Homo sapiens: one gene and its partners. The protein of the gene in region 3 interacts with the protein of the main gene of each other region in a pairwise test. Each region holds a gene or a part of one and is shown on either strand. Other genes may lie near its edges.

The links.
Region 1: the proteins of PAX6 (region 3) and BCL2L15 interact in binary tests that used the Homo sapiens proteins (3 or more experiments, as listed by UniProt).
Region 2: the proteins of PAX6 (region 3) and SET interact in binary tests that used the Homo sapiens proteins (3 or more experiments, as listed by UniProt).
Region 4: the proteins of PAX6 (region 3) and LONRF1 interact in binary tests that used the Homo sapiens proteins (3 or more experiments, as listed by UniProt).

The regions. Positions count from the first base shown.
Region 1 is NC_000001.11:113,884,574-113,891,861, forward strand, and holds the start of BCL2L15 (bcl-2-like protein 15), read right to left. Parts: upstream 3,009-7,288; 5' UTR 2,803-3,008; coding exon 2,676-2,802; intron 2,086-2,675; coding exon 1,964-2,085; intron 1-1,963.
Region 2 is NC_000009.12:128,692,218-128,696,925, reverse strand, and holds the end of SET (protein SET), read right to left. Parts: intron 4,265-4,708; coding exon 4,161-4,264; intron 4,059-4,160; coding exon 3,945-4,058; intron 3,289-3,944; coding exon 3,118-3,288; intron 3,031-3,117; coding exon 2,884-3,030; intron 2,286-2,883; coding exon 2,262-2,285; 3' UTR 530-2,261; downstream 1-529. UniProt on the Homo sapiens protein: Multitasking protein, involved in apoptosis, transcription, nucleosome assembly and histone chaperoning. Isoform 2 anti-apoptotic activity is mediated by inhibition of the GZMA-activated DNase, NME1.
Region 3 is NC_000011.10:31,808,302-31,815,332, reverse strand, and holds the start of PAX6 (paired box protein Pax-6), read left to right. Parts: upstream 1-4,010; 5' UTR 4,011-4,218; exon of another isoform or gene 4,219-4,317; 5' UTR 4,318-4,492; coding exon of another isoform or gene 4,493-4,505; intron 4,506-5,373; exon of another isoform or gene 5,374-5,427; intron 5,428-7,031. UniProt on the Homo sapiens protein: Transcription factor with important functions in the development of the eye, nose, central nervous system and pancreas. Required for the differentiation of pancreatic islet alpha cells.
Region 4 is NC_000008.11:12,731,504-12,738,536, forward strand, and holds part of LONRF1 (LON peptidase N-terminal domain and RING finger protein 1), read right to left. Parts: intron 6,642-7,033; coding exon 6,492-6,641; intron 5,858-6,491; coding exon of another isoform or gene 5,769-5,857; intron 5,638-5,768; coding exon 5,397-5,637; intron 5,295-5,396; coding exon 5,198-5,294; intron 3,898-5,197; coding exon 3,783-3,897; intron 355-3,782; coding exon 233-354; intron 1-232.

The DNA of each region.
Region 1 (7,288 bases), on a different chromosome or scaffold from region 3:
GTGGTTACATTACAGAATGTTCTTGTTTGAGGGAAGTATAAAAGTATTAGGGGTTGATGAAATATGTCAACTCCTTACTGTCAAATGATTCAAGAGAGAAATTATTTGTACTATCCTTGCAACCTTTCCCTGAGTTTAGGGCTGTTTCAAAATATATTTTTTTTTATTAAAACAAGTTCAAGTCAAATTATTTATTTATTTATTTATGTTTTTTTTTTGGAGACAGAGTCTTGCTCTGTCGCCCAGATTGGAGTACAATGGCACCATCTCGGCTCACTGCAAACTCCCCCTCCCTGTCAAGCAATTCTCCTGTCTCAGCCTCCCAGGTAGCTAGGATTACAGTTGTGTGCCACCATGCCTGGCTAATTTTTGTATTTGTATTTATTTATTTATTTTGAGAGAGGGTCTCGCTCTGTTGCCCAGGTTGGAGTGCAGTGGCGAGATCTCAGTTCACTGCAACCTCCTTCTGCCTCCTGGGTTCAAGCAATTCTCCTACCTCAGCCTCCCGAGTAGCTGGGATTACAGGTGTGTGCCACCATGCCCAACTAATTTTTGTATTATTAGTAGAGATGGGGTTTCACTATGTTGGCCAGGCTGGTCTCAAACTCCTGGCCTCAAGCAGTCCGCCCCTCTCGGCCTCCCAAAGTGCTGGGATTACAGGCATGAGCCACAGCACCCAGCCAAAAAAAAAAATATGTTTAATGAGAAAAAAAGTCAACTCAGCTATCAACTACCTAGGACAGCCTCAGGGCAAGCAACTGGGAGTAACAGGTCCAGCTCTGCCTGAACATAGTGTAGGCACACTGCCCAAGCTGTGTATAGTAGGACGAATAAAGCATAACGGTTAAGAGGGTGGTTCTTTTTTTGAGACAGAGTCTTGCTCTGTCGCCAAGGCTGGAGAACAGTGGTGTGATCTTGGCTCGCTGCAACCTCCACCTCCCGGGTTCAAGCGATTCTCCTGCCTCAGTCTCTCAAGTAGCTGGGATTACAGGCATGGGCCATCACACCCAGCTAAGTTTTGTATTTTTGGTAGAGACAGGGATTCTCCATGTTGGCCAGGCTGGTGTTGAACTCCTCACATCAAGTGATCCGCCCGGCTAATTTTTGTATTTTTAGGTAGAGACGGGGTTTCACCATTTTGGCCATGCTGGTCTGGAACTCCTGACCTCAGGTGATCCGCCCAGATGGGCCAGGCGCGGTGGCTCACCCCTGTAGTCCCAGGTACTTGGGAGGCTGAGGCAGGAGAATTGCTTGAACCCGGTGGGTGGAGGTTGCAGTGAGCCGAGATCGCGCCACTGCACTCCAGCCTGGGTGTGACAGAGTGAGACTCCATCTCAAAAAAAAAAAGCATAGGCTGGGTGTGGTAGCTCACGCCTATAATCCCAGCACTTTGGGAGGCCGAGGTGAGTGGATCACCTGAGCTTAGGCATTCAAGACCAGCCCGGGCAACATGGCAAAAACCCATCTTTACTAAAAATAAAAAAATAAAAAAAATAGATGGGCATGGTAGCACTTGCCTGAAGTCCCAGCTACTCAGGAGGCTGCAGTGGGAGGATCGCTTGAGCCCAGGAGGTGGAGGCTGCAGTGAGCTGAGATCACACCACTGCACTTGAGCCTGGGTGACACAGTAAGACCCTGTCTGAAAAAAAAAAAAAAAAAAAAGATACTATACTTTGCCAAGAATAAAGTGTTATAAATGTGCTCTGTGCACACTAAGCACAACAGCTGTGATGAAGACCAAGTAGAGACAAACTGAAGGTTCATCAGCCTATGCCCAAAATTTTCCATCTCTGTACCACTTAGGTTTTAGCAATTGGAGAATTCTTGCTATACTTCCTTGAAATATAAGCACCCAAATATTTTCATAGAACATTCCTAGTCACTGTAGTATGGGAGTAGTAAGAAAAGGAAGTTTGAAATAGAAAAAAAAGCAGCAAACAATAGCATGAAGTAGAAACTTGACCTGTCCCTTAATGGTTTCTGCAATGACGTTTTTGGCAGAAGCTTCCAATTCTCCGTTGAACTGGTCACCCAACATCCGAAGGCGACCAGCAATGATAGCCACATCAAAAGAACAAGGCTCTCCTATGACAGAGGGAACACATTTGTTACAATGCTTGAAGCAATGGCAAGTCCCAGGAATCTGGGCAATGAGAAAAATTTGTCTTGTCTTTTAAATAATTTTCATATCATGATCTCCCAAGAGCTTAAATGTTCTGTCAACACCAATAGTCAGAAAGTTTCCCTTCATTGAGAACCTCTTTCGCTTTAGGTGTTACTGAAAGCTTAGAGTTTGCCTTTTGAAACTTAAAGGAAATAAATAAAATATACTGTTTTTTTTTTTTTGAGACCGAGTCTCTGTCGCCCAGACTGGAGTGCAGTGGCGTGATCTCAGCTCACTGCAACCTCCGCCTCCCAGGTTCAAGCAATTCTCATGCCTCAGTCTCCCATGTAGCTGGGACTGCAGGCATGAGCCACCACACCTGGCTAATTTTTCTACTTTTAGTAGAGATGGGGTTTCACCACGTTGGCCAGGCGGATCTCAAACCCCTGACTTCAGGTGATCCACCCACCTTGGCCTCCCAAAGTGCTGGGATTACGGGAATCAGTCACTGCGCCCGGCTGAAAACATACTCTTATTGACCTGCAATCACCGCCTAGGGCAGGAACCTTACCTGAATCTACTTCATCTACACAGCATAGGTTCCGGCTGGCAACCTGCAATGTTGGGCTCAAGAAGTCCATGAGTAGAGTGTTCACAATGCATTCCGTTTGTTCCTCAAAAGTTTGGGAGCTCTTCATTTTAGATGTTTGCTGTCAAGTTTTGCTTTTCCACGAAACAAGCAGTTTTCAGCCCAGCAGGAAGTTAAAAACACTGGTAAATCAACAAATGTTTCTACCTCTTGTAGTTTCCTGACATGTAATCCTGGAACTTTTCCCACTAGCTTTCTTCAAACACAGCTGCTCAGAAAGGTGGGACTTCTCAGAAGGATTACCTACTTGGAACTGGGGAGACTTTAAAGACTTTAGGTTCTCTATCTCAGACCACACCCTAACCACATAAAATTAATGCTTAACTTTTATCGTTAGGTAGCCAACCTAGAACTGAAATAGAGTTCAGGAAGAGCCTCTGGAGTAATTTTATTAAGAAATACTTCCTCGACTTCTTAGGTCCTGCACATGGTATAATTTGAAGGAAGGTTTTGAAGTTACAGTGGACCAGCGTTCAACTTCTGTTTATGGAATTTATTTGCCATAATCATATAATAATTACTTACTGAACAAGGAACTATAGTTGGCACTACAAGTAACATAGAAAAATGATACAGGCACAGTTACTGTGCTCATGAAGCTTACACTTCAGCAGAAATGACAGATATTAAATGAGTAATCGCATTGTTATTTGTGCTATTGAGATCAGTGCACTTTGATCAGTGAAGTGTAACAGGGAATCAAGCCTTTGATCAGTTTAATAGGGAAACAAACCTAGGGGACTGGGAAGGCTTCCTTAAAATAGTACCATCTGACATGAGCTCTGAGGAATAAGTAGGCATTCATTATGCAAAAAGGAGGCATAACACTATTCTAGGCGGAGAGGTAGCAGATATAAAGTCTGGGAAGGTTAAAAAAAAACAACTTGGAATTATAAATGGGGACAACAGAAAATATTTCATAGATAAATTATGAGGATTAAATAAGATAACATGCGGAATGGCCTAGCACTGTTTGGCATACAATAAATGTTAAATGTCCTCCTTTTAGCCCAAGACATAATGACCAGGAGGAAAGAGATCTGAGATTCTCTGTCTAGCAAAAGGATTTTCCTAACAGGGTTGGACTCCATCATTGTTTTAAGAGATCTCATGATTGGACACTTATCTGTAGTGGTTGCCTTCTTAACGTAGCTAAACCTAGATTTTGGGTCTGGGTCTCAGAAGCAGCCATCAAACCTATCAGCAAACTTACCACTCAACCTGTCTGACCTGGTGAAGTTATTAATATTAACAGCTCCAACTAATAAAAGAGTCAAGCATAGGCCGGGCATGGTGGCTCATACCTGTAATCCCAGCACTTTTGGGAGGCTGAGGCGGGCAGATAACCGGAGGTCAGGAGTTCACGACCAGCCTGGCCAACATGGCAAAACCCATCTCTACTAAAAAATACAAAAATGAACTGGGCGTGGTGGTGCATGCCTGTAATCCCAGCTACTAAGGAGGCTGAGGCATGAGAATCGCTTGAACCTGGGAGGCGGAGGTTGCGATGAGTCGATATTACGCCACTGCACTCCAGCCTGGGTGACAGAGCAAGACTCTGTCTCCAAAAAAAAAAAAAACAAAAAAAGATTCAAGCATAAACAGTAAGTCAGTTGTTCAGAATGGAATTTCTATCTTGCAAAATATCAAAGCCAATCTTGTGTTTTCTGTTCCATTCTAAAACACATACAACCACTGCACACCTATTAAAATGGCCAAAATCCAGAACACTGGCAAAACCAAATGCTGGTGAGGATGTGGGTCAGGAACTGTCATTCATTGCTGGTAGGAATGCAAAATGGTACAGCCACTTTGGAAGAGTTTAGCAGTTTCTCACAAAACTAAACATCCTCTTACCATATGATTTAGCAATTATACTCCTTGGTATCTACCCAAAGGAGCTGAAAACTTATCTACACAAAAACTTGCACATGGTTGTTTATAGCAGCTTTATTCATAACTGCCCAAACTTGGAAGCAACCAATATGTCCTTCAGTAGGTAAATGAATAAATAAACTGTGATACATACAGACAATAGACATTATTTAGTGCTAAAAAGAAATGAGCTGGCTGGGCGCGGTGGCTCACGCCTGTAATTCCAGCTACTCAGGAGGCTGAGGCAGGAGAATTGCTTGAACCTGGGAGGCGGAGTTTGCAGTGAGCTGAGAGGGCACCATGGCACTCCAACCTGGGTGACAGAGCAAGACTGTGTCTCAAAAAAAAAGATCAGGCCATGAAAAGATGAGGAGGAATTTGGGTGGTAATTGGACTTTGGGTAATAATTGATGAGGTAAGTTCATCAGTTACAACAAATTGTACCACTTTGATTGAGGATGTTGATAACAGAGAAGACTATGCTTGTGTTGGGGCAGAGGGTATATGGGAAATCTCTGTACCTTTGTTTCAATTTTGCTTTGAACCTAAAACTGCTCTTAAAAAGTCTTAATTTTTAAAAATGATCATAAATTGCTTTTGGAGTAAGAACACAAATTATGTTCCCATGTAGCTAAAGTGCTATTTTCATTTGTCATTATCTGTCGCTCATTCTCTCTAGAGGCAAAAGGGCTGAAACCTCATTATTACTAAGTAGGCTTCAGACTTTTAACATCAGAAGGGCGGGCACTCAGAGAAAATTCTAGGCTAACCTCCTTTCACATTAGAGCTAGCCACTGACAGTTGAAGGATTCTAAAAAATACATTTGTGACATACTCCCAAAACAATATATAAAAAATAAAAATATTTATGAGACCATCCAGCTGGTATTAAATAGCTTGCCCAAGTTCACACATCAGTAAGTGGCAGAATATAAATTTTAAACCAAGTCTGTCTTACATTAAACTCAAGCTTTTCCCACAGTAATAAACCACGTTCCTCATTTCACTATCAATACGCTTATGCCATCTTTGAAATCGAATTTTGAGTCCAGGGGTGGTAGCACGCACCTATAGTCCCAGCTACTCAGGAGGCTGAAGCAGGAGGATCACTTGAGCCCAGATCAAGGCTTCACTGAGCCATGATCACACCACTGCACTCCAGCCTGGATGACAAAATGAGACTCTGTCTCAAAAAAAAAAAAAAAAAAAAAAATCTAATTTCAACTCCTTTGCATTGTCTTGTATAATCAATGTTGTAAAGCTATAGAAACAGAGTACAGGCTGTCATTAGCAATGTGGAGTAAATTTTTTCCAAGTTTGTTTACTTCTTCTGGGCCTTCAATATAGCACCCTCCAAAACTATCCCTTTCCCTCAGCCCACATACCTTCACCCTTGCAGTTGTAATATTGTGCTCTTAATTATTACTGAAAAATCACGAGGCCAGAATTTTTTCACCGTCACTTGTTTCTCTTGCCACCCTCTGACCACAACAAATTACATCCCTCCCCAAAATGCTTTGTCTCATATCATTGGCTTAAAGTCCAGGATCTTGTCATCTGTACCAGATGTGCATGTGGATGAAGATCCTTGAGTGTAACTCCTCTCAACATGGAGACTTGTAACTAAGAAAACAAGTAATGTGTCCCCTCTCCCCTAAACATCCCATATCTAAGAAAGGAATAGAATACTTTTAACAGAACGCCTGTTCAAAAATAGGGGTAATGGAAACACATCACAGTCACTGATTCATAACTATAAAATGATGGTAATATGCAAATTATTGCCTCTGCAGTGTTCCAAAACACTATTGTCTTTGTGGAACCTCATTACATACGTAACATACTGTTTACCTGTCAACTAAGAATGACATTAGATGGCTGCTGTTCTAAGAGCACAGTATAGACTACCTTCATGGATTGTAAAATATAAACATCTACTTATATCACATCATCAAACCCCATGTCTGCAGAAGCTATACAGAGTTCCTAGCAGGGGAAATATTAAAGAATTAACTTCATAGTATACCTGAGCTTTAGTCATTTTGCTTATAAATTAGTAAAACCAGGCTACAGGAGAAATCAGTTCTTCATTGAGATAATCTTAAAAGTATATTTTCCAAAAGCAACAATTTCATATTCTATGTATTCCTCTTACATTATAGAAAAGCAACCAAGTAGAACATAGTCTTCTAAAAGCTCCAATAGTTGGGATCACTTTAGTATTATTATTTATTCAGTTGCTTAGTCATACCTAATTTTCTTTAGATCAACATTTCAGTTATAGTCTTTAATTTTAAAAAGTCAATAAGTTTACTCAATTTCTACCACCTGCATCCTGTTCCCTTGCTACGCCTTTTTTTTTTTTTTTTTTTTTTGAGATGGAGTCTCACTCCGCCACCTGGGCTGGAGTGCAGTGGCACAATCTCGGCTCACTGCAGCCTCCGCCTCCCAAGTTCAAGCGATTCTCCTGCCTCAGCCTCTCGAGTAGCTGGGATTACAGGTACCCGCCACTACACCCAGCTAATTCTTTGTATTTTTAGTGGAGACGGGGTTTCACCATGTTGGCCGGCTGGTCTCAAACTCCTCAACTTGTGATCCACCCGCCTCAGCCTCCCAAAGTGCTGTGATTGCAAGCGTGAGCCACCACGCCCGGCCCCTTG
Region 2 (4,708 bases), on a different chromosome or scaffold from region 3:
CCAGTGGCTGCCTGAAACCACAGGAGTATCAAGCCCCATACAATTTTTCCTGTACCTGCCTATAAAACTTAATTTCCAAATTAAGCACAGTAAGAGATTAACGGTATAGGATAATTTTGACTATTGTATACTATAACTATACATTCACACATTTAACATACAGTATAGGTGTGAATGTAGTCTCAAAGTATCTGAATTGTAGTTGACCACATGTAGCTGAAGCTGCAGATAACAGGACCCACTGTACTCAATTTTCTTCCTAGTGAAAAGTCCTTTTGAGACTTCAGAATGAAAATGCTATACTCACCCTCTCAGAAACTGTTTACTCAGAAACTGTATCCAAGTAAGATATTTGAATTTGTCCTTTACTCGGACACCGACCAGCTCAAAGCTTTCTAAACCAATGTCATACCATTAGCGCTAACCCACGCTTCCCCAGTCACTAACGATGTGAAGACAAAAAACTAGAACAATTTCTGAATCCAATAGCAAGTAACATTTCTCTATAAAACAAGGAGAATGACCCCAGTCCAAAAAAAATCTTTATGTTCCTTTATTGGAGCAAGATTCCTGATCGGTATACAGTGATGTATTTACTAAACAGAGACCTGTGCAGAAATTACATACTATCCATCTAGATAGGTTGTTACACTTTTGCCTATTGATGGAATAGTTCCATTTATCAAGTTTTATACATCAAAAAGCTTTTGAAGTTCACCAGACTGTCCATTAATTCACCTCTGAAAAAGTGGCATTTAATTTCAGCGACTATATTTTACAGCATTAAAAAGCTTATGCATTAGGGTGCTTCTCTGCACAATGGCATTGAGCAGACAGAGCTGAGTCCATTATCCCACCCAGATTCACATGGTCACATTTGAGAGCTTTATACCAGAAAGCAGGGACAGTTACTGCTCACCATCAGACTTCTTACTGAGAGCCTATCTTCTTGGCCACATTTTATATAGCCAATGAAGACATGCCAGCAACTGTCCCGTGTATAACTTGGCATTAGAGCACCAGGTCTGTTGGATGGTGGTGGCAGGCACAATTAATTTATATCCAGGTAAAAGGCCAATTTTAAAAACTGCCACTTGGAGATAAAAATCAAGGGCACAATGTACTCAGAGAGTATTGAGCTATCTGGTATCCCAAATGATGTGAATACTTTCAGAAACCAATGGCAAATTGAACCCACGTTTCCCAGCTATGGAGATATTAATACATTGATTCAAATCCCATTACTCAATCCACATAGCCCTGAGGTCATCCTGCAAAGTGCGTATCAAAAAATACGAAGTTAGGGTGACAAAGTTTGACAGTGATGTTATACAAGTCAAACTTGGAAGGTCATAGTAAGCATACCTATGCTGAGAGAAAAGCATCAAATCCTTTGTGTACACATTTAGTTTTATTGTAACAAAGCAACTTGTACACTTTTAACGTTTAAAACTGAGCATCATCTTTCCTTTCCAGTGAAACAAAAAGAAAATTTAAAAATAAACAGGAACAAAATTACAATAGAGAATGTCAATTCCAAATAAGATCCTACAGGTTCTGCTGATTCTCCCATTGAGTGGCAGGGCTCAAGTCATCATTAGGAGAGAATTTATTTTAAAAGTGTCATCTTAAACTGCAAGGATGTCTGTCAAATATCACAATTAAACATGCCAAAGGAGAAGCCATGTTGTCAAAATGCCCACTTAACCCACCCAAACATCTCAAACCCACCCTTTGCTGACCTTCTATAACCCCATTTTTTTAAGTTTTTTTTTCTTTTTTTAAACAAGAGAAAGTAGACAGATACATGTTGGTAAATGCTAACTGTCCATATTCACATAGAGACACAGTGTACTCTCTGAGCCCAATATACAGAGAAAGGAGGAAAAAAGCTAGAATTCTATGCACTACTACACAGGGGCCTAGCACCCTCCAGCTTCCAGCAGAGCGAAGGGAGCAGGTTTTTCTTTTTTCCCACAGAGCTCGGTGGTGTTGATTCCATACAGTTTTTGTTCAGACAGGAAGGGATAAAAATGAACTTCGAACAGAAAGGGGTAGAGACTCTTTTCCCATTGTATTCTGCTCAAGGTATTTCCCCCCAAATAAATTGAGAACCATGGAGTAGAGAAAAGAGACCTCAAGAACAGGGCGACTGAGCACAAGAGGGAAAAAAAAAAAAAAAAAAAAAAAAGACTGCAACTTGCTCCCAGGGACTGGAGAAAATTTAAAAAAAGGAAGGTTGGAATCCATCAGTGTTCTATTTAGTCATCTTCTCCTTCATCCTCCTGAAAGAAAAAGTGGGCAGTTAATCTTCAGGATTAATGCTGAGACTTGCTTTCATATGGACCACAATGGACCCCACGAGTGCCCCTGGGGGCACTCCAGTTTCTAAACCTGTAAGTCAGCTGCATCGAAGGAAACACCCGTGATGATGTTGCTTCAGATTAATTAGTAACTTCAGTTCTAACCAAATCAGGTATATTTCGGATCAAATAATCCGAAATAAAACCAACCTATCCTAATTTGACTATTCAGAAATTGTGCAGTTTGTCGAAAATACATGAAACTTTGTTATTTCAGAGATGTCAGAATTTGACCAGCTACACTGCCTATATTGCCTAAGTACTGGCTAGGGAAAAACAAGCTTGGGTGGTGATAAGTCTAACCAAAAAAACCCAAAAAAAAACCAAAAAAAACCTAGTTAAACATTAGTACCATGTGCTTATCAAACATTTCCTTAATTCTTGAACAACAAAATGGCTTACTTTTTTTCCACAATCAGTTCTGGTCAGTTCTACCACACTATATATATATATATACACCCCAAAATAACATGAATTCTTTAAAAGTTATCTTTGTGGGTTTAGCCAAATTTTCTTTTACCTCTCCTTCCTCCCCTTCATCATCATCTTCATCTTCTTCACCTTCATCCTCATCCCCTTCTTCGTCAATATCTTCTAATCCTTCCTCCTCTTCATCATCATCATCATCTTCTTCTCCTTCTCCTTCTTCATCATCCATATCGGGAACCTTAAAAAAAAAAAAGCACAATATAAGGACTCATTTTTAAACAACCGAGACAAGTCCAACCTTGAATAAATGAGTATTAGAACTCACCAAGTAGTACTGTAATGGGTTTGGCCAAATATCATCTTTGATGACCTCTCCTAACTCATCAGCACCTGCATCAGAATGGTCAGTAAACCAGGTAAAGAAGCTCTCTGGTTCCTCATGCTGCCTCTTCCTGCTGGCTTTATTCTGCGTTTGACTCGAACGTTTCGTCAAATCCTAAATGAATACCGGAAGAGCTTTTGATACAATCTCTCCATAACACCCAAACTCCCTATAATTTAAAAAATAAGATTTTCCCCAAAAGCTAAGCAAAACAAATATCAGTATACTATCTACGCTACCATTATTACCTAAGAGCAATTATAAAACTGTGCAGCAGGTAGAGGTAGTATCAACTACATTTGGTTTTCCATAAAATTAGTTCCACTGTTAACAGCCACTAGCACAACACAGTATAAATATCTAAACTATGTCTTACTACCTAAATACGGATGTAAATGATTTTGAGAAATGGCAAGCCATTTGAAGAGCTCAGTCACCACTGCAGAAAACAACAGCAACAAAAAATTTAGTCCAGTTCTCAATTCTTAAACTTGGGCTAGATTTTTCTCTTTTTTTTTGTTTTTTGGAAGGTAAGGGTCTATGTTGCCCAGGGTAAACTCCTAGGCTCAAGAGATCTTCCTGCCTACATCTGTAGTATCTAATGAGAACCCTAAACTACTGTAATACTTGGCTTCAGCACACTGGAACGTTTTATATTTTAAGGTTTTGTATTTAGCCACATGACCAAAGTATCAAGCACTTGTAAGTGGTTAAAACTAAACTGAAATAGGCAAAATGCTATTTTTGTCAAATAATTCCTCAAAACATACCTTTCCAGATTTCCATTTGATTTCGGTGGACTTCGAAGATGGATCACCACTCTCATTCAGATGAAATTCTTTGGAGAGAACTTTATTTTCAAAGTAAGGATTTTCATCAAAATACTGTAATAAATAATTGAAAGATTAGAAATATGAACAGGTCTTCCAACCAAAGCTCACATTAATTTCCACAGTGGCAAACAAGATTAAGTTAGAGATACTTACAAAATCTATTCTGTAACCTGATTTAATATCTTCAAATTCTGTCACTTCAACTCTGGTCAAATAATGCAGTGCCTCTTCATCTTCCTCCCCAAGCAGTGCAGACACTAGGCCAGAAAATTACAGGTCAGCTGAATTTTCAACAGGCACACACTAACAACAATTTAAGTGATCCCTTTAAAATTTTTCCGAACTTAGTGAGCATCTTTGGTTTTATAAACCCATTATTAACTAAAGGCAATTGCTCAATATCAGACTGTCACTATCTTTCATCAAGCAATTAGAATATAGCTTCTCCTAAACAGAATAGAAAGCAGTAGCTGTATATCTTTTCCCGTCTTTGAGGTTTTTTTTTTTTTTTTTTTTTTTTTGAAACAGTCTCACTCTTGTCGCCCAGGCTGGAATGCAAAAGCGCACAATCTCGGCTCACTGCAACCTCCCCCTCCTGGGTTCAAGCGATTCTCCTGCCTCAGCCTCCCAAGTAGCGAGTAGCTGGGATTACAAGCGCGCGCCACCACGCCCAGCTAATTTTTTTTGTATTTTTAGTAGAG
Region 3 (7,031 bases):
TGGGGGCAGAGGTTACAGGGAAAAGAGAGATGGGGGGATCGTCACAGGGTGATGAAATGGAAAGCAAACTTTTCTAGGAACCCTATTTGCAAAAATCGGAGAGTGCCGCTGATTTCAGTTGTCCTACATGTCAGGAGTTTTAAACCTAACTCCTATCTGGACAACAGCATGGAGGGACTGGGAGGCAAAGCCTTGGGAGTCTGACCCGCTGGGCTGCTAGGAATCCCTTTGCTGGGAGACTCCACTGGACAATGTTATTTTAAAGGTATTTTGGGGGTGGGCAGGGAGAAGACAGAGAGAGAAAGAGAGAGAGAGAGAGAGAGAGAGAGAGAGAGAGAGAGACAGGCTGGCCTCCCAGAGCGAACGGAAGAGGACTGAGGACTGAACCCAGGGAGCCCCTAGCACTGGCCATTTGGCAGGAGGCGAGGAAGGGCGAGGGCACCGCGGCTTCCCCCCAAGCCGAGCAGTGGCCACAGCCTGAAGGTGCCACGGGGCGGCTCTGGGATCTTCTTGGCTTTTCTAGGCTCTGGGCTCGGCGAGGCTGCCGGGTTAGCGGGAACCGGCAGGTTGCTGGAGAAAGGAGAGGGACAAAGGCCTGGAAGTGGGGGAGGCACCAGGGACTGGGCGGCCGGGATGGGAGCCTTTGCCTTTAGGGCTCACTGGACCCGTTTGCCAGCTCCGCGGACAAGGGATCCCACCTTCCCAGGGTCTGCAAAAAGAGAGACGTTTGGGGCACTACAAAGTGACGCAGGTGTCTGCCAAGACTTTCCTTCTCCAAAAAATGCCAGTCTTCACCCTTTCCAGCGCGCCGGCGCTGCGCCTCTGCTTGACCGGGGAAAGAGAGAGTTTGGAGGTGTCAGAACTGTCAGAACTCCGGATGGGAGGCTCTTGGTTCTGAAGCTGGGAGCTGGAGGCACTTCCCCCCAGAAGTGGGCACTTCTTTGCCTCCCCGAAGGCCTGATGGGGTGGGCACAGGGGAATGCCAGGGATCGGTGCGGGTGAGATGCTTGCCTCACCTCATGTTGACGCATCAATACTGGCTAGAAGCTCTGGGCAGGCTCTGGCGAGCCACGGTCCCCCAGCGGGACTCCCTCCACGCAGACAGCCCCGCTACCGGGTGGGACGACCCCGGCGGCCCCCGCGGGAACGCACCCGCCGGCCTGAGAGGTCCTCCCTCTGGCCACAGGGGGCGGAGGGTAGGGGGGAACAGGGGCCTGTGGGGAGGCGGGGAAAGGAGACAGAACCTAAAGCGCAATCCCCGCCGCCCCCCCGCGTCTTGGAGGGCAGCAAGTGGGCCTCGGGCGTGTTGGTAGCCGCAATTAAAATGGCGACCTGCGAGTTGTCTCGGTTTTGTACACACCTCTGGCAACCGCGCCCGCACCTCAGTCTCGGCCCCCACACCCCTAGGCCGCTTCGCCCCCAGAGCCGGTACTTGGCAGAGGGAGTGAGGCTCCCCACGAGGTAGAACAGCACCCCCACCTTCCTTGAGACCAGTCCAGAGAGAACGAGGAAATCTCACTCTCACCCCTCTCTCCTTAAACTTTGAAAACTCGGCCTCATTCTGGGGTTGAACTCCCCTCCCCAAATATTGACACATGGGAAGCAGCCAAGTCCTTTTTGTTTTTTGTTTGTGCGGAGGAGTTTCCAGGAGTCTTTCCCGGAGCCCCCTTCCCCACCCAATGACGTCAGTGGCATTCACTCCTCGCTCCTTGCCTTTTCTGATTTTTTGTTAAAACTTTTCTCCGCAGCGAGATGGGGGTTGGAGGGGTGGGAGAAGGAGCTGATTCAAAGAGCCAGTGCCCTGGGGGGAAATAGCAACAAGATTACGGCTGCTTCTTTCCGAGGCAAAGCTTAAGAAGGTGCTAATCCACTCGGTCGCTAATTGAGAGGTTGTAAAAATGATACTCGCCTCCAGTTCGGACAGAATCACTTCCCCCCCCCCCGCCCCCCCGCAAGTCCCTCGCTCATGCACAGCGGACTTGAGTCTTGAGTCCAAGCTTCTTTAATGCTCGCTTGGAAAGTAAAAGGAGAGAGAAAGAGAAAGCCGACTTTCGCTGGTCTGGGACTCAGGGCCGCGGCCCCACTTGCCGGCATCCTCCGAAAGTCGCGCTCCTGCGAAATGAAACCTCGCCCAGGAGGCCGCGGACCTGGACACCCGGCGCCACCTCCTTCACCTCTGACCCAGGTTTCCTCCCGGCGCTGCGAGCTCCCGGGGAAGGGTTAGAGCCGGCAGCCCTCCCCAGCCCGGGGAGGGGAGAGGGTTATGCGACCCCACCTCTGGCTAGGGCCGGGGAGGCCTTTGCTTCCCGGGAGCCCTGCCCGGGCTCCTTGGTCGCAGGGCTGCTGGGTCCCAGGCAGGAACGAGAGGGTGAGGCCCACATGTGGCCCGGCGGCCCAGGGCGGCTTGCAGCGTCCTCACTGTCCCGGCTGCCAGGGGCTGCGGCGACGCGGCCAGTCAGCAGCGAGTTCAGGTCGCGCAGATTTTATTGATGAGCTCTGACTTTCAGCACTTTCCCTAAGTCAAGAAGAGTCTAGCGTACCCTTCGGCTGCTTCATTTCAGCCTCCCTGCCTCAGCTCTTCAGCCCTATTCCCCCTCGCCCTGTCCTGGGGTGTGTACAGCAGCCCAGGCCTTCCTTCTCCTTCCCGGCTCCGTGGCCCGAAGCCGCCGAGAGAGCTCGGGACAGCGCAGGACCAGGCAGCCGCTCGCTCTCCTGTCACCTTAACTGCAGGCTCCGAGGGGCGCCTTTGGAGTGTACTGAGGTGTGTCCTAATCGTGCGGCATTCAACAAATGGACTTCTGGTGTGTGGTCAGAAGAGAAAAGCCATTTACTTACTTTCCTCCCCGGTTTTCTGGCAACAGCTGAAGGGGAGCTGCCTCCGTGGACTGAGCAGACCCAGGAGAGGGAGTCGTGGTGCGGAGACACACGCACCACACACAGATGACCGGTGGCACACACGACACACGCTGACATACCGACATCGCCAGTGGGACACACACACACACACACACACACACACACACACACACAGAGAGAGAGAGAGAATCCCTCCCAGCATTGGTCATCCGCCCCCCCACCCAGGCTTCCACTCCCCCTCCCCTCTTATCTCCCCTGGCTTCCCCTCCTCTCGGGCGCTGCGAAAAGCAGCCGCACTTAGTCAACAAATGGCACGTGGGAGAAGTTGGTGAGTGTTTGGTGAGGACTCTTCAGGGCTTTTCACAAGAACCCTCTGTACACAAAGTAAGTGGCGTGTTTACTCGGGCCTCTCCAGCCAGAGCTGTGCCTCTGCTCCGCTGCGCACCGCGGCTTCCGAAAGGAGAAAGGAGAGAAGAAAGGGCGGGGAGAGCGGGGTGGAGGATTTGGACAGGCCCTGGAGGCTTGGGCTGGGGAGGCCTCTGGCCTCGTTTAGTTCTCGGCCCGGCAACCTCCTCTCGGCCTAGGCTTCGCCGCGGCCTCCGCAGCTGGAATGGAGCTGCCAGGACCCAGTGACGCTCCCGCCCCTTTCCTCTTCTTCCAAGGGGCCAGGTGGGCTGGGGTGCGGCCGCCGCTGTGCTCTGTGTCTTGGGGCCCCGGCTGGGATGGGGTGGGGGCGGGCGGGGGCGGGGCGGCAGGCCACGCTGTCCTGGAGTTGGCAAGAAAGGACAGCACAGAAACTTGCACCCTCCGAGGACTGGGAGTCCCGAGTCCAGCTTAGGGGGAGTGGGGGCGCGACCCCCAACCCAGAAACCTTCACTTGACCGCTCAAGTTCGCGGCAGCAGGGCGGGCCGCGCCGAATCTCGGCGTGCGCGGAGCGGGGAGATGCAGGCGAGCGCCAGAGCCCGGGCTCGGGGGCCCTGCGCCGGGGAGAGGAGCCGGGACCCACCGGCGGAGCCGAAAACAAGTGTATTCATATTCAAACAAACGGACCAATTGCACCAGGCGGGGAGAGGGAGCATCCAATCGGCTGGCGCGAGGCCCCGGCGCTGCTTTGCATAAAGCAATATTTTGTGTGAGAGCGAGCGGTGCATTTGCATGTTGCGGAGTGATTAGTGGGTTTGAAAAGGGAACCGTGGCTCGGCCTCATTTCCCGCTCTGGTTCAGGCGCAGGAGGAAGTGTTTTGCTGGAGGATGATGACAGAGGTCAGGCTTCGCTAATGGGCCAGTGAGGAGCGGTGGAGGCGAGGCCGGGCGCCGGCACACACACATTAACACACTTGAGCCATCACCAATCAGCATAGGTGTGCTGGCTGCAGCCACTTCCCTCACCCACACTCTTTATCTCTCACTCTCCAGCCGCTGACAGCCCATTTTATTGTCAATCTCTGTCTCCTTCCCAGGAATCTGAGAATTGCTCTCACACACCAACCCAGCAACATCCGTGGAGAAAACTCTCACCAGCAACTCCTTTAAAACACCGTCATTTCAAACCATTGTGGTCTTCAAGCAACAACAGCAGCACAAAAAACCCCAACCAAACAAAACTCTTGACAGAAGCTGTGACAACCAGAAAGGATGCCTCATAAAGGTGAGTCCGCTTCTTTCTTCTCGCTTTATTTTTATTGCAATATTCAGACAGGTCTCCCCCTTCCTCCCCCCTTCCTTCCTCCCCTCTCGCCGGTCCCCTCCCCCACTGCTACGCCGGGAGAGTTGGGCCGGAGAAGTTTCCACGCAGGAGCCCAAACTTTCTACTTCCAGCGAAAGCCCGCGTCGGAGGGCGACTGCCGGCGAGCGGGAGCGGCGCAGGGCTCGGGGCGGGCGGCCAGCTCAGCCCCAGCGCCAGCGCCAGCGCCAGCGCGGGCTGAGCTCGCGGGAAGAAGGGAGACTCCAGGCGCGACAGCAGCCGCGGCTCCTAGCCCCAGCGTCGCCCAATGCTCCCGACCCGCGGGAAAAGACGAAGAGGCTCTGTGGTGCCCAAGGCCCTGGAACGGCCGCAGAGAGCAACCGCTGCCGGCTGCTTTGTCCAGCCCGAGGCCCAGCGAACGCGCAGAGAGCGGGCGCTCCGAGGACTCGCCGAGGGAGCGCCGAGGGAACCTGCTCGCCGCGTCTCCGCCCGCCCGCCGGCCCTCGGGCTTTGTGCCGCACTGGGCTCCGGCGCAGAAGAGTCAGCCGGCACTCGAGCGCCGAGGGGGGCACCGCGCCCGCCACCAGCCCGAGTGGAGTCAGTCGGCAAGGCAGCCGCACGCTGGAGGTAGAGGGAAGAGCGAGCTAGCGCGAGCCGGGAAGGAAGCCACCAGGCCAAGGCGGTGGAACGCGCGCTCCGAGGGAGCTCAGAGCCGAGCGGGAGGACTGTCAGCTTCCACCCAGCCCCCGGGCTCTTGCCCCCAACTCCACTGGAGCGCTGAGCTCGGAACTTGAAAACTCTCTGCTCCCCAGGCTTCCCCCGACTCTCATCTCCCTTGCCTTGCGGAGGCTGGGGCTCTTCCCTGTTCTCCGGCCCCCTGCGCTTGGTGGGTATTTTTCCTTGTTTTCCTCTGATCCAGTCTCACCAGGTGTTGGGATTTCAGCAAGTTTTGAGGTGCAGAGTTGGTTTGCTTTTTTGTTTGTTTTACTCCGAATCCCCTTATGTTTTTCTTGGTAAGGCCTTGAAAATAAATCTGTATGAAAGCATTGGCCTTCCCCCTCGTCTGATCACTTCTTCTCCCGGCTAATTAGTCGGAGTAATTTGAGAGCTTTCGATTCTAAGATCCCAGGAGGAAAAGTGTCTTTTCAAAGTTCATAAAGTTGTTGCCTCTTTCCTTGTGCAGATTTTCTCAGTCTCCCTGCGCCATAATAGCCCTGAATTTTAGCAAGTGTAATTGGGGGAAATGGAGTTGAATTTCAAGTGGAAATGCTTTCTTTTTCGAGTGCTAAAACCTGGCTCTTCATTCATGAGCGATTTCTAGAAAGTTTAAAAACAAAGTGAACGTGGTTTCTTTCTTTCTTCCTTTTTATTTTTCTTATACTCTCCCAAGCTCCCTAAGCCATTCTGGACGTTTAACTCGAACTTGGGAAGGTTTTAGAAGGGGCTGGGAGCAGAAAATGAAATGAAAGGCAAAGAGCTTGAGCCTGGCGAGTTTACTGAAGAGAAATAATAGTTGTTGCGGTTGACATTACATTTTTTATAGCCAGTGACCTTTGCAAAAGCGTGAAGGCAGTTTGATTAGTTGTTATCTTATTTGGCCCTAGAGAGTAAAACTTTGTCATCATAATTGCTAATTACTCTTTTGGCTGGGGGCGGGAGGACCGAGAGCTCTCCCCTTTACCTCAGTTAAAGAGTTTGGGGATGGAATTTGAGAATTAAGTAATTAAAAAAAGAACAGCATTTGAAAACTGAGGCTTGTGTTGGGGACAGAGAGGTGGGGGCAGTGACCACTCTCTTGTGGTCCAAGGCTGGGGCGACTCCAAAATGTCTGGAGACTCCTTCGTTCAGGATGTGGTTCTATGGCCCCAGCGAGGCCGTACAGAGCCTCGGGCTGAGCTGGGGGGCTGAGGCTGCAGTTGGGGGTCTGACCTCTCCGGTGCACAGGACTGCTTCCGGGTGTCGATGTGCCCCACTTCCCGGGTTGCTTCTGCACTTAGTGTTCACGTTTACTTAAGTAATTAGATAGCTTCTTAGCGAGAGGGAAGTGGGAATGGAGCAGAACTGGAATTTGAAATACTACCACCTTCCCAGCTGCTTCGAAAACTAATCAACGAGGCCTCTTTGTGCTCAGCTACTGAATTTAAAAAAAAATGGTATCAAGAAGTTACAAGCCAGGATGGGAGCATTCTGTTGTGATTGTGCACAGCGTGGGTTACAAAGTGGAGTTCTGGAAGTTTTACCCCTCCTAGGGGAATTCCATTCCCCATCTCCCCACCTACTACTCCTTTGCAGCTTCAGGGTCCTGCATTTGTTGGGGTGGGGTATTTTGCATTAGAGTTGGAGATTTTGCCTATCCAGGGCATGGCTATGGGTGCCGGGACTGAGAGACAGGAAGGAAGCATTGGAGAGCCAACCTAGATAAGGGTAACTAGTAACCCTCTGCTGTGGCCAGTATTTACCCAATGCTGAGAAAAAGTCCTCATTTTCGGT
Region 4 (7,033 bases), on a different chromosome or scaffold from region 3:
CCGCCCAAAATACTGCTTCAGCCCACAGAGCTGAGTCAATAACTCCCTATAAAACATCCGGATGTTACCAAGTGAACTTTTATAAGATTCTGTCTGTTGAGGACCACGGAAACAGACCAATACTTCTTGACTAGACTGAGATGAACTAAAGACAGGATCCAGCTTGCGGTGAGGTTTTTCCTTACTATTAAAGGGTAGTAGTTCATAATTTTTTTTATGAGAAGAAACTTACTGTGAGAGTTCAGCAGTTTCTTCATCATATATTTTTTTTCTCTCAGACAGTTCATCAGGCAGATACTTCACTATTAATTCTTCCAACAGCTGTGTGACACAGTACCTCCTATCTGCTAGATACTAAAAGACAATATTATTTTACATTCCAGCAGTGGTTTTCCTACAGTATAAAACAGGCAACACAGTTAACTGATATATTAAAGCCTTTATTACATACTTATACCATCAATTCTGGATTAATTAGTGAGGGGAACATTACAATGGATGATGCTAAGCAAAAAAACCTGTCTGAGGCTTTGCACAAGAGCAGTAAAGATAGTTGGCTGCAACCTGAACCAAGCCCTGTACAGAAGAACTGCTTCCTGCTGTGACCACAGCTTCTCTATTAGCCGCAGAGGGCCCTGCCCTGCCGTCTTCCACAACAGAGGCCCTTTTCCACCTGACAGCTCATGGGCACTAAACTATCATTTTAACTGAGATACAAAAACGGGATAAGGAATAAATAAAATAACACATTTGCCTTATTTAAGAAAAGCAAAACATCTGTTTTGTTCCCAATTTCAGACACAGTCTCTAGATAAATTTTCTTTCAGATTTTTCTTCCATTGTCACCCACTATTGAGTAGAGGAGCAGACCTCAACTCTGTCCTTGAGTGACCCAAGGAAGGTGCGTTTCTTGGGACACTATCACTCAGACCCTTATCAAGATATTGCTTTTCCTGTATGATCCATCTACCCCAGCTCTATATAAAATCTTACATTTGCGCTGACCCCTAAATACTCTGAAAAAGTACTATCCTCATGCATTTTTGTGTTATTCTCTATTCCAACTTACAAAAGCCATCTCTCTCACTCCTGCTTATGCAAAACATGTCTATCCTTCAAGGTCTGACTCCAATTTTACCTTTTTCACAAACTCTTCCTTAATTATTTTTTTCTCTCCCAAGAACCCATATTTTACTGTTTTTACCACATAGTAGGCATTGTAGCGTGTAGTATATGTACACAGATATATTACATCTCTGTAGTTAAACTAAAAATTGCTTAGGGTAGGGCCAGGGACATGGTCAGGGTGTATGCACAGAACTTTGTACAAAGAAAATGCCCAATACATATTTATTTCATAAAATTAGTGAGGAAAACCTCCTGGGAAACTATCACAAGATGAAGCCATCCTTGAATCTGCAGTCAGTAAAAGCAAGGGTTTTGTCATTATCCAATGAAGAGTAGATGGGGAAATGCGAGAGGTTGGGAAACTGGTGGTGGTTTTCAAAGTTTAGCATGAATCGCGGCTTGTTAAAATACAGACTACTGAGCCCCACGCCAGAGTCTCTGAGCATCTGGGGTAGGGTCCAAGAATCTATGTTTCTAACAAGTTGTCAGGTGACAGATGCTGCTGGTCAGGGGAGCATGGGGAGAGGTGGCCTTGGGCAGGTAGTATATACACAGATAATAAGTGTTTATCACAAAATTAATCAAATTAGCTGTCATAAAAGCAATTCCATTATCATTTTCTATTAAGTTAATAAAGATGTTTAAACATCTAGGGAAATACAGCCACTCTTACATTACTGATAAAAATCTCAATAAATGTAACATTTCTGGGGATGAGGCAATCCAACAATTGGTTTTAAGGGCTTCATAAATATATGGCTTTTGATCCAATAATTCACCTCCCAAAAATTTAACCTAAGGAAATGGTTATTGCCTTATTTAAGAAAAGCAAAACATCTGTTTTGTTCCCAATTTCAGACACAGTCTGTAGATAATTTTTCTTTCAAGTTTTTCTTCCATTGTCACCCACTACTGAGTAGAGGAGCAGACCTCAACTCTGTCCTTCAGTGACAGATATATAATATCTGTCATAATATCTTCGATTACATAAAGATGCATAAAATCATTCATTTTAAATGATGTTGGCAAAAGCATAGTATATAAAAAAGAGAACAAGAAACCTTATATATCCAACAACAAAGAAATGTTAAATCACTGGACTATTATGCTGCTATAAAAACAATGTATCTAAAATAGATGGAAATGGAAAAATGAGCAAAATAAAATGACAAGTAGGAAAAATGTAAAACTGAACAGCATACCAATCTTTTTTAAAGTATATGTATTTTGAATTTACAAATTATATTACGCAGGGTATCTTCAAAGTTGGAAACAGGATATTGCTAAATAGTATGTTAGTTATACTTTCAAAAAATATGCTTAGTATATATTTTTCAATCTCCAGACATTTTTTAAAGAGGGAATATCCCTAATCAAAGCAATAGATCTAATATTATGCCAAAAACCACAATTACTTTTGCACCAACCTAACAGTTAATCTGGAAAAACAAGCATCATAGTTATCCTGGGGGGGTATTTAAATGAAGTCTGGAAAAATAGCATGTTTACAGTACTTCATCTAAAAACATTGAGCATATTAGCTAAAAATGTAACTAACAAACTCTTTTAAGAATAAATGTATCTGATGTTTCCTGACTTTGAGAAAATTCTAAATATGCTTTTGTTTTACATATCAGCTTGTTATATATGTAAGACACATATCAAATGTAATAACAGACATGCTATTATGACATCCGTACTGAGTTGTTTTCTATACAGGAAATACTGTATGTATATTCATAATGGTTTTATGAATTTTTCAATTCATATTTGGAAGATACTTTTTTTTAAGCAATCCTGTCAATCACCAGAGACAGAATCACTTTCCCCAATCAACGCTACAAACTGCAATTGCCTCTCAGAATCACAGGCTTTAGCCTGACAGTAGGTGATCTGCAGTCACTCAAGCATGATTAAGAGGGTGCTCTCTTCTCATCAATTAGAGAAGACATCCACTGAGATCTAGCTACTTTCCTATCACAGGTTATTAGCACTGATCACTGACTCTACAAGAAGGGGAATAGGAAGCTGTACCTCCCTCTCTTCTTTCCAATCTACCACTTTTCTAGAGCTGCATTGCCCAATGTCGCAGCCATTAGTCACATGTGCCTACTTAAATTTAAGTTAATAAAATGTAAATATAGTTCCTCAGTGACACTAACCATATTTAAAAGCTTAACAGGCAAACATGGCTAATGGCTAATATATCTGACAGCAAAGATATGGAACATTTCCATCAATGCAGAAAATTCTATTGAACAAAGTTGTTCTAGATGTTGAGGAAGCTGAAACAGTCCTCACATCTGGCTTATTATTGAGGGTTGGAGGCAGGGCAATAGGGTTTCCCCAGTATAGTCATCACCAAAATTGAACTTATCCCTGACCAGATAACTAACCATACCCACTTTTGTTTAAAAAAAAAAAATTAAGTACAAGGGGGTTGGTCTTCAGCATCTGTCTTCTTTCTCCCCATCCTCTTCAACCTCACTTTTCTCCAACATTAGCATATGGGTAATAAAACATTATCCTTGTTAGTCACTCAGAATATAGAATGTAATTCTGAACGTGATCATCACTATTTCTATGGCTGAACAGAAATTAAACCATGCTGCCAAACTTAAGACCAACAAACAGACACATATACAAATATTTACCTCTTTTAAGCTTTCTTTGCAAAGAGGACAATATGGTGCATGATCTAAACAACGCTCAAGACAATTCTTACAGAACGAATGTCCGCAAGGGGTTGTTACTGGCTCAAAAAACAACCTGAAATCAACCAAGATACATGTTAGTTTTCACATTAAACTATCCACTGAAAAGCTTGTACTACTTTAGAACCATAACACTAATCTCTATTTAAAGGAGGAAGAAGGAGGGCCCAGCAGGCAGGAGAGGAGAGAAAGGGCAGTGATAAGTGTAACCATACCCTCCAGAATGTTTTAAAATTCTCCATCAACAAAGGCCTCCTGCCAAAGGCCTAGAGCCAAGGGCCTAGAGCTGTCCTGACTAACGCAACAGCCCCTGGACACTATGGCTACTAATCACTTGAAATGTGGCTAGTACAAGCTGATATGTGCACTGAATGTAAAATACATACCAGATTTCAAAGACTTTCTGCAAAATAAATAATGTAAAATACATCATTAAAAATCATTAGTTAGCTTTTGTATAGCCTTTAGATTCCCATTTTAATATCAACTTAAAAATGATTCCTTAATAGGTTTATAAGACCCTTATGATATAAAACTCATAAAAAGAATGACCTAATAAATAATGCAGTTGAATCCTAATGTTAGACTTAATACTAAATGTATTATTCAAACATTACAGAACAACTAGTTTTACTTATTTTCTGAAACATGATAGTTTTGAATTTGCTAGAAATAGATTTAGAGGTACTTTAGGGACTGTTTAGTATAATCCCCTCACTTCACAGATGAAGAAACCAAGGCTCAGAATTAAGACTTGCTCAGGAATGTAACTGCTACCAGCCTAGTGTGACCAGCACTAGGCCTCCTGACCCCGTATGAATCTTTTGATCCTACACAATTCATGTAAATGAGAAATGTTATTTCAAAACATTTAGTCTTTTAGAATTATAGCATTCTGAATAATGGAAATCCTTATCCTTATGTTACTTTAAAAAGACTTTATGGTTAATATACATTAATAAGATAGGATCATATACATAAAATACTAATTAGAATTCATACCCAAATTTAAAACCATGGAGATAGGTAAGTTTCAAAAATAATATCATCTATAACTTTCTTAGTACTTTACAATTTCCCAGATTCCTTTTATACTGAAGCCATGTGATTCTCACAACAATGAGATGTAGGCCATGCAAAGCTTGATCCCACTTTCTAAATTAGGAAACCTGAGGTTCAGAGATTCAGTTATTTGCCCAAGGCATGAAAGGTAAACCCAGGACTAAAATTCATGTCTTTTGATTTTTATTCCAGCATTGTGTTACTTTACATTGTCTATTATTACCTTTATCTACACGGTATTTTATGTATACTAACATAAAATATTCATCTTCTATAAAGTTTTATATGCTTACCTCATGCAGAGAGAACACTCGAAATCTGAGACATCGATTAATTCTTCTGGAATATCACCATAAGCTAAGGAAAACATACAGACTTCATTGGGAGTTTCTATTAAAACAAAGACATGGGGTTTTCTTCCTTAGGAAAAACTTTAAAGACTATTCTGACTAAATAAATTTATTTTATATAAGTGTAGAGCAAAATTTTTACCTCCTTGTTTTTTCAGCTTATTTCTTCCATCTTCATTTACAATCACATCCTGTTCTAAAAGAGACAACTTTCTTTTCAGCAGAACACCTTTTTCTTGAACTGACAGAACAGGTTCTGAGGACACTCTTTTTAAACAGTCCTCTCTGGCAGGCATTTCTGTTGAATTTATAGACTGTGCTGACTGAGCACGGTTTAAGCTTCCTTTGACAGGCTCTGAAGTGACCTCTGGTATTTCTTCACTCTACAAAAATACAATAAACAAAGGTAACTGTATTTCTTTACTATCCTTTATTCCTCTCACCAAGAATCAAACTGAAATGAAATTTCAATGCCTTATAATGCTCATTTTAATGTTCATTTAATAGCACTAACTTGATTCCAACACTGTGACAAGTAAATGATTTTTGCCAGCACAGTTGGCCCTCCGTATCCACAGGCTCTGCATCCGTGGGTTCATCCAACTGGGGATAGAAAATATTCTAAAAAAAAGCCTGAACATATATCGACTTTTTTCTTGTCATTATTCCCTAGACAATACAGTATAACAACTATTTACATAGTATTTACATTGTATTAGGTATTATAAGTAACCTAGAGATGATTTAAGTATACAGGAGGATGTGCATAAGTTATATGCAAATACTGTGCCATTTTATTAATATATCAGGGACTTGAGCATCCTTGGATTTGCTATCTGTGAGAGGTCCTGGAACCAATCTCCCACAGATACAAGGGATGACTGTACTTACACAGCCCTAGAAATCAAGGTGACTTATGTTATAATGAGGTTTAAAAGTAGTTATGCTATAACACAGCTGTTACTACCCTGAGGAAACATAAATGCAATGTTCTATACATATTTTTAAAGAACTAAAAGTTTTCTTTCACGGGACCTAAAATTGTGATTCATTAGCAAATATTTTACATAAAAGATTTTAGTGTAAAGTAAAGGCTATGGAAAAAATTCTACTATGATAACTAACCAGGTTAAAAGTACTTAAGTAGGTGCTAGTACTTGAAACTAGGAAAGTGAAGCTCTTAACTCGTAAAGAAATGGATACGCTAAACTCATGATAACCTTGTCTCACCCCGTACCTGCTTTGGGCTAGGTTCATTGAGAGACTGAGACTCTTCCATCACTGAATGAAAATCAAAAGGTCTGTTTTTAGTACATGGTAATGAACTCCAGGAAGATTCCTTCAGGCCTTCTTTTAAGTTTTCAGGTAATAATAAATCACATAAAATCTGTAAGAGAAATATTAAAAGTAGTAGAAAATATAAAATATTTGGTTAAGGATAATTTTGTATAAATTTACCTAATAAAGAATATGTAGAAAGTTTGTAGCAGACATTTTTTTAATGAGCAGGAGGGGAACAAGGTAAGCAACACTGTAAGTTCAAAAGTCTTGCAAAATTAGGTGTGCCTCATGGGGTCAAATCACCCGCAAACAAATGATTCAAAACTTTGAAAGGAAAGCATGGGAGTAGTAAGACTCAGGATAAAGGCTGATCTTTCAACACAAAGACTATAAAAAGATCTTAAAAGACATATTAAATATTTATCTCTGAATCTTAGTGAGCCCTATGCTATCAAAATAGTTCATGGTTCACCTCAATGTATATTTACGAAGTTGGCC